3 linked regions of the Homo sapiens genome follow. The protein of the gene in region 2 purifies or fractionates together with the protein of the main gene of each other region. This does not show direct contact. Each region holds a gene or a part of one and is shown on either strand. Other genes may lie near its edges. The genes, in order: GOLGA3, DEUP1 and SPAG5.

Region 1 (3,747 bases), on a different chromosome or scaffold from region 2:
CACAACCCTAGGTTCACAGCTGGGTAACATCAAGGGACTTCATACTGAGAAACCACCACCTCAGGCACCTACAGGACTTTCTGCTTCCCCCACACCTGAATTCTGTATACAAACATTCACGGCTCCATCTACACCACCTCGTTTCACCTGTTCCTATCGGGTATTAGAAACAACAGAGCACAGCCAAAAACCAAACACGATTTCCTCAGGAAAAGAGTACCTGGTGGAGGCCACACTAGTATCCAAAAGTAAACACAGATCTATACACAAAGTGAAAACCAAAAGCAAGCAAGCCTCATGTCACTGCAGAGACGTGAAGGGCAGGCTTGGAAGTCAGGACTCCGGCCTCAGCTCCCGACCCTCCACCACTTACCTGTGAGAGCCTGGGCTAAAGATTTCTTAATCACATTTAGCCTGTTTCCTCACCAGTAAAACAATGAGAAAATGAACGCAAAATTTTGCCAGGATTAAATATAACAAGGCACAGAGTCTGTCCCGTGTCCTCAATAAAATGACAGTAATTATCACGATTTTCCCTTTAGTTGTTGCTTGTCAAAATCGCTAAAAGCCAACTGAAGGCATTCTCACTTGGGAAAGTATGCTACTTCTTAAGGCAATCGGGGGAAAAAAAGCTCCTCTTCAATCTGAGTGATGTCAGATGATTTATTTCCTTCTTGCCATTTAAGGTATACTGCCTGAAAAGATATTAAAGGGTTATAAAGCGCTATGTTGATGTCGTTTAAAAGACAGTTCAAAATAATCCACGACGACGGGTGTGGCTGCTCACACCTGTAACACCAGCACTTTGGGAGGCTGGGGTGGGAGGATCGCTTGAGGCCAGGAGTTCCACACCAGCCTGGGCAATACAGCAACACACCCAGTCTCTTAAAAAAAAAAAAAAAATCCATGAGTCATCTGTAAATGGCTTACACTGGCCCAGTGACAATAAACTCCAACCTCTTAAGAATCCAGCACCTGCCTACACCAACATCCTTACCGCCATCGCTTTCCCCCTTTGCCATTACACTGTGGCCACATCCTCCGCCCTCAGGGTCTTCAAACTTTCTGCCTGAGGCGCGCTTTTCTCACAATTTTGCCTGGCTTGCTTCTCGTCATAGAGGCCTTAGCACGGAAGTCGCCCGCCCCCCAGGCTCCCACTTAGAGTAGCGGACCCCACCCAACCACCGCCCGGTACCCTCTCGCTGGCGACCCTGGGTGTCCCTGTCCTAGGTGGGCTCCGCGGGGGCAGTGACCCAGACCCACAATACCCAGGACCCGCCACACGACTGACATTCGTCGGGTTCATACCCGTGACAACGCCCGGCCCCACTCGCTCTGGCCACCTGGAATGAAGACAAGTCGGCCAGCGACAAAGACAAACAAGGAAGTACACGGACTCCTGAAACCCCGACTTCCCACGAACCACCCGACACCATGTCACGCCTTTCAGCTGCAAAGGGCCAGGCTAAAGCAAGCACTGCCCGAGTGGTGGCAGTGGACAGCTTCGGGACAGGCCGCGCTCGTCGGGCGCAGACAAGCATTCAGGAGGGCTCGCGGGCACCGGCATTTACAGAGCCAGCTCCGCCGCAGCTGAAGGCGGGCGCCCAGGCCCGAGGCCACCGCAGCGAGGCGGGGGTGACTGGAACGGGGCCGTCCCGCCACGCTGCAGGGACGCGCCCAGGCCCCGCCGCCGCCCCTCGAGCCTCCCCCGCCCATGCACTGCGGGAGCGGGAGCGGGAGCGGGAGCCCGAGCCCCGAGGCGCCGCGGCCTCCGAGCCCCTCACCCTGCTGCTCTGGCAGCCCCGGAGGCCGCCCGGCCCGGATGCTCCGGCGGAGACGTGGCCGTGAGAGGGGCGGGGCGAGCGGTGCATCGGCCTCGGGTCCCCGGAAACAGCCTGCACGCGCTACTTTCGTTCCGGAACAGAGAACGTCCTCCTCTTCTTCAAGTGGCCACCCTAGGGCCGGGGACCCTCTGCCCACAGGGTCCGGATCGAGCTCACCTCCGACTGTGATGAGGCCGCCTTCAGAAAGTGACCTTAAGAGTTTGCGGACCTTTCCCTAGTAGAAACGCAACTTCCGGAACTGCAGGACCAACTCTTTCAGGAAGCTGAACCGAGCTTCCGGCGGAAGTGGCGTGGCCGGGGCTCGGCATGGGCGCGGCCGAGCTCGGTGTGGGCGTGACTTCCCCGCCCGCCCTAGTCGGGTCCCCGCCCCAACCCCGCACCTCCACCCGGCCGGCGCCCTTCGCGCTTCAGGTGCCAGATCAAAGGCGACGCTGCTTTGGACCCTATTTGCTTCCCCTTTAAAAAGGGCAAAGCTGGACGGCGCGGGCCGCTGGCCGCTGGGGAACGGCTTTCCACCTTCCCTCATCCGCCAGGCCGCTCTTCCAGCTGTCAGGAAGGAAATGGCCTGGAGGGCGCCTCGGGGTCCTCTGTGATGTTGCGCTCATCTCTGCGGATTTTGGAATACGCTTCAGTCTACGAAGTTTTCTGGGATTTTGATGGGAACTGCTGCAGATCGTTTGGGGAGCACGGGCATCGCTGACTCGGTCCTTCATCTGCGTCCCTGGTGGCCCCTCCATTTATTTCGGTCTTTTGATTTCTTCCACCAGCATTTTGTAATTTCAGCATACAGATTCTGCACCTTTTAAGTTTATAGTATTTCACATCAAACAACTGTAACACTGCGTTTTTGACGTTTTCCACGTGTTCACTGTTGGTCTACACAAATGTGATGAATTCTATGTTGATTTTCTTATCCTGAGACCTCGCTGAACTCATTAGTTTGAGGGTTCATTTGGTGTTTTGCGGTTGTTGTTGTAAAATCCTTGTATTTTTTACATGGGCCATCATGTTATCTGCAAATGCAAATTCTAACACAAAATGATCAGACTGAGGCGTAAAATATACAACTTTTAGAAGAAAACAGAATTTCTCACATCTAGAGCTTGGGGAAGAGTTCTTAGATCTGACCAAAAAAACACAATTCACAAAAGAAGTTGATAGAGTAAACTTCATGAAAAAATTAGAAACTTTTCACCGGATGCGGTGGCTCACGCCTGTAATCCCAACACTTTGGGAGGCCAAGGTGGGCGGATTACCTGAGGTCAGGAGTTTGAGACCAGCCAGGCCAAATGGTGAAACCCATCTCTACTAAAAATATAATAATTAGCCGGGCATGGTGGCATGTGCCTGTAATCCCAGCTACTCAGGAGGCTGGAGGAGAATCGCTTGAATCCAGGAGGCGGAGAGGTTGCAGTGAGCGGAGATCGTGCCACCAGCCTGGGCAACAGAGCAAGACTCCGTCTCAAAAAAAAAAAAAAAAGCCGGGCACAGTGTCTCACGCCTGTAATTCCAGCACCTTGAGAGGCCGAGGCAGGTGGATCACAAGGTCAAGAGATCAAGACTATCCTGGCCAACATGGTGAACCCTGTCTCTATGAAAAATACAAAAAAATTAGCTGGGCGTGGTGGTGTGTGCCTGTAGTCCCAACTACTCGGGAGGCTGAGGCAGGGGGATCACTTGAACCTGGGAGGCAGAGGTTGCAGTGAGCTGAGATCGTGCCACTGCACTCCAGCCTGGGCGACAGAGCGAGACTCCATCTCAAAACAAACAAACCAACCTTGTGAGAAAGACCACATTAAGAGGATGAAAAGATGAGTTACAGACTGTGAGAAAATATTTTCAAACCACGTTTGTTGAAGGACTAGTAGCTAGAATATATAAAGAACTCTCAAAACTTGACAGT
Region 2 (3,747 bases):
GAAACCCCGTCTCTTCTAAAAATACAAAAAATTAGCCGGGCGTGGTGGCGGGTGCCTGTAGTCCCAGCTACTCGGGAGGCTGAGGCAGAAGAATGGCGTGAACCCAGGAGGCGGAGCTTGCAGTGAGCCGAGATGGCACCACTGCACTCCAGCCTGGGCAACAGAGCGAGACTCCGTCTCAAAAAAAAAAAAAAAAAGGAAAACATTAAACCTACAGTTTGCTAAGGAAGATCCTGACTGCTAAAGAAACCGACTCAACCTTAATGTTTGGAGAACACTGGATTTGGAGTAAGATGATCTAGGTTTACATCTTGATGTATCATCCATTTCAAGTGCAAATCCATGGACAAATCCATGGACATATCCTTCATTCTCTCTAAGCCTGGGTTTCCTAATCTTCTGAAAGAAGCTATTAATAACACCTGATACACTTGCTGAGTGTATTTCTGAGCCTCTAAAGAAATAATGAACATGGAAGCACTTAGCAATGTTACATAGCCTTAGTGATCTTGGGCATCCTGAGATTTCATTAAATTTCGTTCCTAGTTCCATTTTCCCTTCCTTGGGTTAGAAAAAATACATTGACCCATTCAATTCAGATAAGAATAAAGAATATACGCGTTTTCAGAATAATGAAAAGTTTCAAGTTAAGATAACACAGTCACTCTCTTCATGCAAACATGAGAGCTATGAAACACCTGTTAGAACTGATATCCCAGGTGACCGTATACAATTCATCTATGAAGCTCAATTTGTCAAGAAACAGCATAATGGTTTTATAAAATTCAGATGGGACCTGGACGGAGGGATGTGGGTGCGCATTAAATTCATAGAATATTAAAGTAGCAAATTAGCGTTAAAGTGATGAAAGTAAAGTGCAAATAAAAGACTTTAAGAATTAAGTAGTCGACTCCATGTGTTAGGAAGGAATTATTTGGTTAAAATAAATCAAATACAAAATTCAAGTGCTTAAAACAAATCACTCAAGATGTCAGTTGGAAAACATATATTCTTTCCTATTATTTCCTCTATGAAATGGAGACAGAAAATCTGTCATCAATGACTCTTGGAATTTGGTGGAAAAAGGAAAGAATCTGGAATCAGTCCCGTTGAGTTTCGTTCCAGCTTCTCCTCTTAGAAGCTATTCTCTTCTCCCTGAAGGGAGGCAACACTGTCCGTTCGCCTGACTGGCAGTGTTTTAAGGACCCATCGCGCTTGACGGGAAAGTCAGGTACAAGCTGATGCTGTTATCACCACAGGAACCAGGGGCTGAGCGGTGAAATCCAGCTCCTCCCAGCTGGAAGACGCTAGGGTGAACGGAGATAAAAGCAGTTCTCTTTACCCGAAGTTTATTTCTTTTTCATGCCACTTCAAATTTGGGTAAGAGGAAAGAGGGCCAAGGGGATTTAAGGAACCTGGATGATGAACTCCCCAGCGGTTTACAGTTCCTTCGTGATCTATTTGGTTCATTCATTCAACAAGTATTTCCGGGCTGCAGCTTGGGTGCCCAGCCTTGGGGTAGGCAGTGGGACTACAAAGAGGAAAGGACCCAGAATAGAGGGGGCACTGGACGTATAACTGCGGGACAGCGAGGTCGCGCTCGCGCGGGGTGAGGTTGGAGGCAGCCGAGGAGCCGCACAGGGCAGCGCCTGCCGCCGCCGCCGCGCCCATCCCCCACTCCGACGGCCACGAGTTCGGGCCGCGACGTCCCCATGGCAACACGCGGCGGCGCCGCGCGCGGGGAGGGAGAGGCCCAACTGCCTCGTTGGTCGCGCGGCGGGAGGGCCCAGGCGGCGGGAGCGCGGCGGCGGGTGGCGGGGCCCCTTGGGGCGGGCCTGGCGGGGCGGGAGGTGACATACGCGGTCCTGCGCCCTCGCCTCAGACCTCTCGGGCGAGCGCGGCGCAGCGCAGGTAATGGCTCCTGGCCTTCCCGGCCCCGCCTCGCCCCTGACCCTCACCCAAAGGCCAGGCTGCGCGGGTCCTCGAGCGGGACAGGGGAACCCCAAAAGGGCGGCCGCTCTGCGGGAGGCTGGGCTTGAACCGAGCGCGGGTCCTGGAGGGGCGCGTGGCGCGGGGACAGAGGCTGGGAGGGGAGGCCCGCGCTTGCAAATCCAGAGCAGAGCTGCGCCCTAAGTTAGAAGGACTGGGCTTCAGTTGTGTGGCCTTGGGCAAGCCACTTAACTTGTCTGTGCCTCAGTTTCCCTGACGTTTAAGTGAGATATTTGAGAATCTACAAAACCATTTATTGGTCTGCTCCTTCTGGTCAAGTTTTCCTTCACCATCCCTGCTCCTCTCCGCTCTGTCTCTCTTAATTCCAGGGTCTCTCTTAAAACTCTTCGATTTGGAAGTGATGTGAGCTCGAATCTTCCTCCTCTTTCTACCTCCTTGAATGTTCTTTAATTGACTTTTATTCAGTGATTCGGAGGAGTTGAAGTCCTTTTCAATACTTTCTCCAGTTATCGTCATAGATTATTTTTTAACTAAAATTGTGTTACTGAGAAAAACTTTTTTTTTTTTTTTACTTTAGGCAAATGCTAACATCCCTATTTTGTCAAGAGGTGAGCCAGTGCCCATAGAGCCATTGAAGAATTTCAAGATTTCTTTTTAAAGGCATTCTTAGCCTTTTTGTCCTAAATCTCATAGTTATAGTCATCCTAACAAAACCCAGATAGGGCCAAAGAAAGAATGTACTCAAATAAAGGCACACCTTTAGGGGAACCACAAGAATAGAAAGTTTGAGAACATCTGGCTAGAATTTCTCTTTTAATGGGAATTCTGTTTTACTCATTCTCATGTACTGAGCCGTTTGCGAACAACGTAGTACAAGCTATTATTCAATAAGTAGTAAATGGATGCTCATTTTAGTCCGTACCACATATTTCAATAAATCACTAAGTCAATATCGTAAATGCATAGGGGTCGCTAAACAAAAAACTCAAGTTTGGGAGGCCGAGGTGGGTGGATCACGAGGTCAGGAGTTCGAGACCAGCCTGATCAACATGCGAAACCCCGTCCCTACTAAAAATACAAAAATTAGCCGGGCATGGTGGCGATTGCCTGTCCCAGCTACTCAGGAGGCTGAGGTGGGAGAATCGCTAGAACCTGGGAGGCAGAGGTTGCAGTGAGCTGAGATCGTGCCTCTGCACTCCAGCCTGGGCCACAGAGCTAGACTCCGTCTCAAAAAACAAACAAAAAACCAAAACAGAAAACTCAGGTTTCTATATTTTGTAGGATCAAGAGCTACTACACAGAAAAACTCATACTAAATGGTTTTTGCCAGTAGCAAAATTTTCATGTTTTATAGGTTAAAGAATATAAACATTTTAGGAACTTGTATCATTTTCCTCCTAACAGATTAAAAATCAAGAAATATAAACCAGATGTAGCAGTTTCTTGACATGGAGAACCAAGCCCATAATACGATGGGGTAAGTGCTGAGAAATTTCTGTTTAATAAGTATGTGCTTAACTGTGCCAAAAACTTCCTGAGAACACATGAATTTTGAAATTTACTATTAATAGAAGGATATGCCAATTATTTTTGGTGAGGCGGATGAGAGGAAATATGAAGTGACTGTAATTAAGGATTATAATGCGAGACTTTCTGATTTTGACACTACAGATCTGCACTCAAAAATCACTGTTTTCCAACTTTTAGTGACTGTCCAATATCTAAGGGTGGTGGATGCGGAGGCAGGCCTCGTGTGCTCTTCTGTTACCACAATGCAACCTTTCTTCGCCAGCTTGC
Region 3 (3,747 bases), on a different chromosome or scaffold from region 2:
AAAAAAATTATTTTAAATTGTCAATATTGGTAATATGCTGGACATTACAGCCTTTGCAACAATTTAAACTTAAGGGTACTTAGTTTTTGCAGGAAATATTAGAGGAAAGTAGCTAAAAGACCACTGTTGGCCCAATGTGGTGGCTCACGCTTATAATCCCAGCACTTTGGGAGGCTGAGGCCGGCAGATCACTTGAGGCCAGGAGTTTGAGACCAGCCTGGCTAACATAGTGAAACCCCATCTCTATTAAAAATACAAAAGTTAGCTGGGTATGGTAGTGCACTCCTGTAATCCCAGCTACTTGGGTGGCTGAGGCATGAGAATTGCTTGAACCTAGGAGGTAGAGGTTGCAGTGAGCCGAGATCACCCAGTGTACTCTAGCCTGGGCAACAGAGTGAGGCTGTCTCAAACAACAACAACAACAATGTTCTAGAGGATTGTATTACAACACAGGCCTAAGAAGGAAGGGAATGGTGGCAGGTGAAGGAATTGATAGCACCTCACCATTGTGGCTGTTGAGATAATAGGTGGCTGCTGCTAAGAAGAGATGGTCCCCAAATGTGCAGAGACCTCCTTTGAGTTGAAAATATCCTCAAAGTAATGACCTTACCATTTGCCAAAAATCCTGGAAACCATAAGCTCCATGTTCCTCCAGCTGTTCAATTTCCCTCCTGTTTTCTTATCTTTGTGTCCTTTCCTCTTGTTCTTGACCTTGTTTCCCATCCCTGAATCTGCCATGCATCCTCTTCCCCTGAAGGTTGCCAGGTCCCTTTGTAGGCCACTGAAGCAGAACCAAAGAGGGGAAATGACATACCTTTAGCCATTCTCCATCAGCATGCCATGTCCTTGCTGCCTGGCTGCCTCCTTCACATTAATCTCATCACCTGCCTGACTGTCCAGCTGAGCACGATGTGAGCCCTATCCAAGCTCATGTGCTACTCTGTGCCTTATTTCACGATGCAGCAGTGAATGATAACTGCTTTGCTGGGGAAGGGAGCCATGAACTCCAAGAAATCAGCAGTGCTGCTCCAGTAGTAACTTTTCCCCCAGATGATGGCTGCCTTGCCTCAGTAATGAAGACTCCCACTTTTCTCTTAGAACTTGTCTTCTGGGGTTCTACTGCCTTTGAGATCATACCTACTTACTCTATGCATACTATGAGTTTTATCTATCTGACCCAGGATAATGAGCAGACAATTAAGAAAGTAAAAATGATGAATAAATACCTAAGAAGGTTAGCATTATTGGCAATAAAAAATGCAAATTGAACAGTGAGATGCCATTTTCTTGTGACTCAATAGCAAAGAATAAAATAGGTAATGCTGGTAAGCATACTCTATTTATCTGCAGGATATAAATTGGTTCATCCTTTTTTTTTTTTTTTTTTTTTTTGAGACGAGGTCTCACTCTGTTACCCACACTGGAGTGCAGTGGCACGAACATGGCTCACTGCAGCCTCTACCTCCTGGGCTCAAGGGATCCTCCCACCTCAATCCAGCTGAGTAGCTGGGAATATAGGCATGTGCCACCATGCCTGGCTAATGAAAAAAAATTTTTTTTTTTTGAGACGGAGTTTTACTCTTGTTGCCCAGGCTGGGGTGCAGTGGCGTAATCTCGGCTCACTGCAACCTTGCCTCCCGGTTTCAAGTGATTCTCCTGCCTCAGCCTCCGGAGTAGCTGGGATTACAGGCACGTGCCACCACGCCTGGCTAATTTTGTAGTTTTAGTAGACATGGGGTTTCTCCATGTTGGTCAGGCTGGTCTCGAACTCCCGACCTCAGGTGATCCGCCCGCCTTGACCTCCCAAAGTGCTGGGATTACAGGTGTGCGCCACCGCGCCCAGCCTTTTTTTTTTTTTTTTAGAGATGGGGTTTCACTGTGTTGCCCAGGCTGGTCTTGAACTCCCGGACCCAAGTGATCCTCCTGCCTCAGCCTCTGAAGGTGCTGGGATTACAGGCATGAGTCACTGTGCCTGGCTAAACAAAGAAATTTTTTACCTACCTGTGGATTTTTCTTTCTGACTTGGCTTCATTGAATTGAGTACTTTGCTTCTGCTTTTAATAGGAAAGGTGGCTGGGTGTGGCAGGAGCACTTTGGAAGTCCGAGGCAGGAGGACTGTTTGAGGCCAGGAGTTTGAGACCAGCCAGGGCAACATAGCAAGACCTCATCTCTACAGAAAATAAAAAATAAATAAAATAGGAAAGGCTCCTATAACTCACTGGGTGGGAGGAAGAATGAGGTGCTGGTGGTACATGTTGCCTACTCAAAAGGAACAACTTGGCTGGTCATGGTGGCTCACCCCTGTAATCCCAGCACTTTGGGAGGCCGAGTCGGTGGATCACTTGAGGCCAGGAGTTCAAGACCAGCCTGGCCAACATGGTGAAACCCCGACTCTACTAAAAATATACAAATTAGCTGGGTGTGGTAGTGCATGCCTGTAATCCCAGCTACTTGGGAGGCTGAGGCATGAGAATTGCTTGAACCTGGGAGGTGGAGGTTGCAGTGAGCTGAGATTGTGCCACTGCACTCCAGTCTGGATGATAGAGCAAGACTCTGTCTCAAAAACAAACAAACAAACAAAACAAGGAACAACTCTGTTTTTCTGGCTAGATAACTAATAAACTTCAGCATCTTAAGGAGAGCCATGAGATGGGACAGGCCCTACAGCAGGCCAGAAATGTCATGGTAAGTGATGATTGACCTTACACCACCACTGGGTCTCCTGTGAAGATGAAGAATGGAGAATCCTGGGTGGTTAGTAGATGGTGATACTAAGTCGTGGTGGTGAAGGGAGGTTTCCAAACATTTGTAAAGTACATCTCCTTATGCGGAGCTTGGAATTGGGGTTAGCGGTTTTCCTCCCCAGTGCCCCTGTTTCCTGCTTAGTGACTTTATTTGATCTCACCTACCCATTTTTTTCTCTACAGCAATCATGGGTGCTTATCTCTAAAGAGCTGATATCCTTGCTTCACCTATCCCTGTTGCATTTAGAAGAAGATAAGACTACTGTGAGTCAGGAGGTAAGCAGCCTGAAGATGGAGGTGGAGGCCTGTGGTGGGACTAAAAGCCATAAAGAGGAACCAGACACATTAACTGATTCTTACCATATAGTCTCGGCGTGCAGAAACATTGGTCTGTTGCTGTTTTGATTTGCTGAAGAAATTGAGGGCAAAGCTCCAGAGCCTCAAAGCAGAAAGGGAGGAGGCAAGGCACAGAGAGGAAATGGCTCTCAGAGGCAAGGATGCGGTAAGGTGACAGGCATTTGTTCTTGGATGTGGGAGGTTTCCACCTCAAGGTTCCTGCAGGAACACAAATGCACTTTAGACACAGATGGGTGGCCTAAGAACTGCCTGCCCTGGGCAGTAAAGAACTGATCTATTGAGGTGTCATGGTTACATCTTTTTGTGCTGGCTCCCCTGTTGCCCACTGTGGCCTTGCAACCACTTCCCTCAATAGGCAGAGATAGTGTTGGAGGCTTTCTGTGCACACGCCAGCCAGCGCATCAGCCAGCTGGAACAGGACCTAGCATCCATGCGGGAATTCAGAGGCCTTCTGAAGGATGCCCAGACCCAACTGGTAATTTAAGGGCATTTTCTTTCCTGGGGTCTGTGCTGACAGACTGGGAGGGTAGTTGCATACTCCCACTTTGCTGTATCCAAAGGGAAGGGGTTCCCGCCTAGGCAATCTTTCTTTTGTAGGTAGGGCTTCATGCCAAGCAAGAAGAGCTGGTTCAGCAGACAGTGAGTC

What was found.
Region 1: the proteins of DEUP1 (region 2) and GOLGA3 purify together in Homo sapiens (affinity purification with mass spectrometry; 3 studies listed by BioGRID and IntAct, with this or other methods). This does not show direct contact.
Region 3: the proteins of DEUP1 (region 2) and SPAG5 purify together in Homo sapiens (affinity purification with mass spectrometry; 3 studies listed by BioGRID and IntAct, with this or other methods). This does not show direct contact.

The regions. Positions count from the first base shown.
Region 1 is NC_000012.12:132,827,019-132,830,765, forward strand, and holds the start of GOLGA3 (golgin subfamily A member 3), read right to left. Parts: upstream 1,852-3,747; 5' UTR 1,785-1,851; intron 1,372-1,784; exon of another isoform or gene 998-1,371; intron 885-997; exon of another isoform or gene 790-884; intron 696-789; exon of another isoform or gene 589-695; intron 1-588. UniProt on the Homo sapiens protein: Golgi auto-antigen; probably involved in maintaining Golgi structure.
Region 2 is NC_000011.10:93,328,862-93,332,608, forward strand, and holds the start of DEUP1 (deuterosome assembly protein 1), read left to right. Parts: upstream 1-1,880; 5' UTR 1,881-1,911; intron 1,912-3,354; 5' UTR 3,355-3,398; coding exon 3,399-3,427; intron 3,428-3,747. UniProt on the Homo sapiens protein: Key structural component of the deuterosome, a structure that promotes de novo centriole amplification in multiciliated cells.
Region 3 is NC_000017.11:28,585,363-28,589,109, reverse strand, and holds part of SPAG5 (sperm-associated antigen 5), read left to right. Parts: intron 1-2,610; coding exon 2,611-2,685; intron 2,686-2,927; coding exon 2,928-3,020; intron 3,021-3,111; coding exon 3,112-3,246; intron 3,247-3,456; coding exon 3,457-3,576; intron 3,577-3,698; coding exon 3,699-3,747. UniProt on the Homo sapiens protein: Essential component of the mitotic spindle required for normal chromosome segregation and progression into anaphase. Required for chromosome alignment, normal timing of sister chromatid segregation, and maintenance of spindle pole architecture.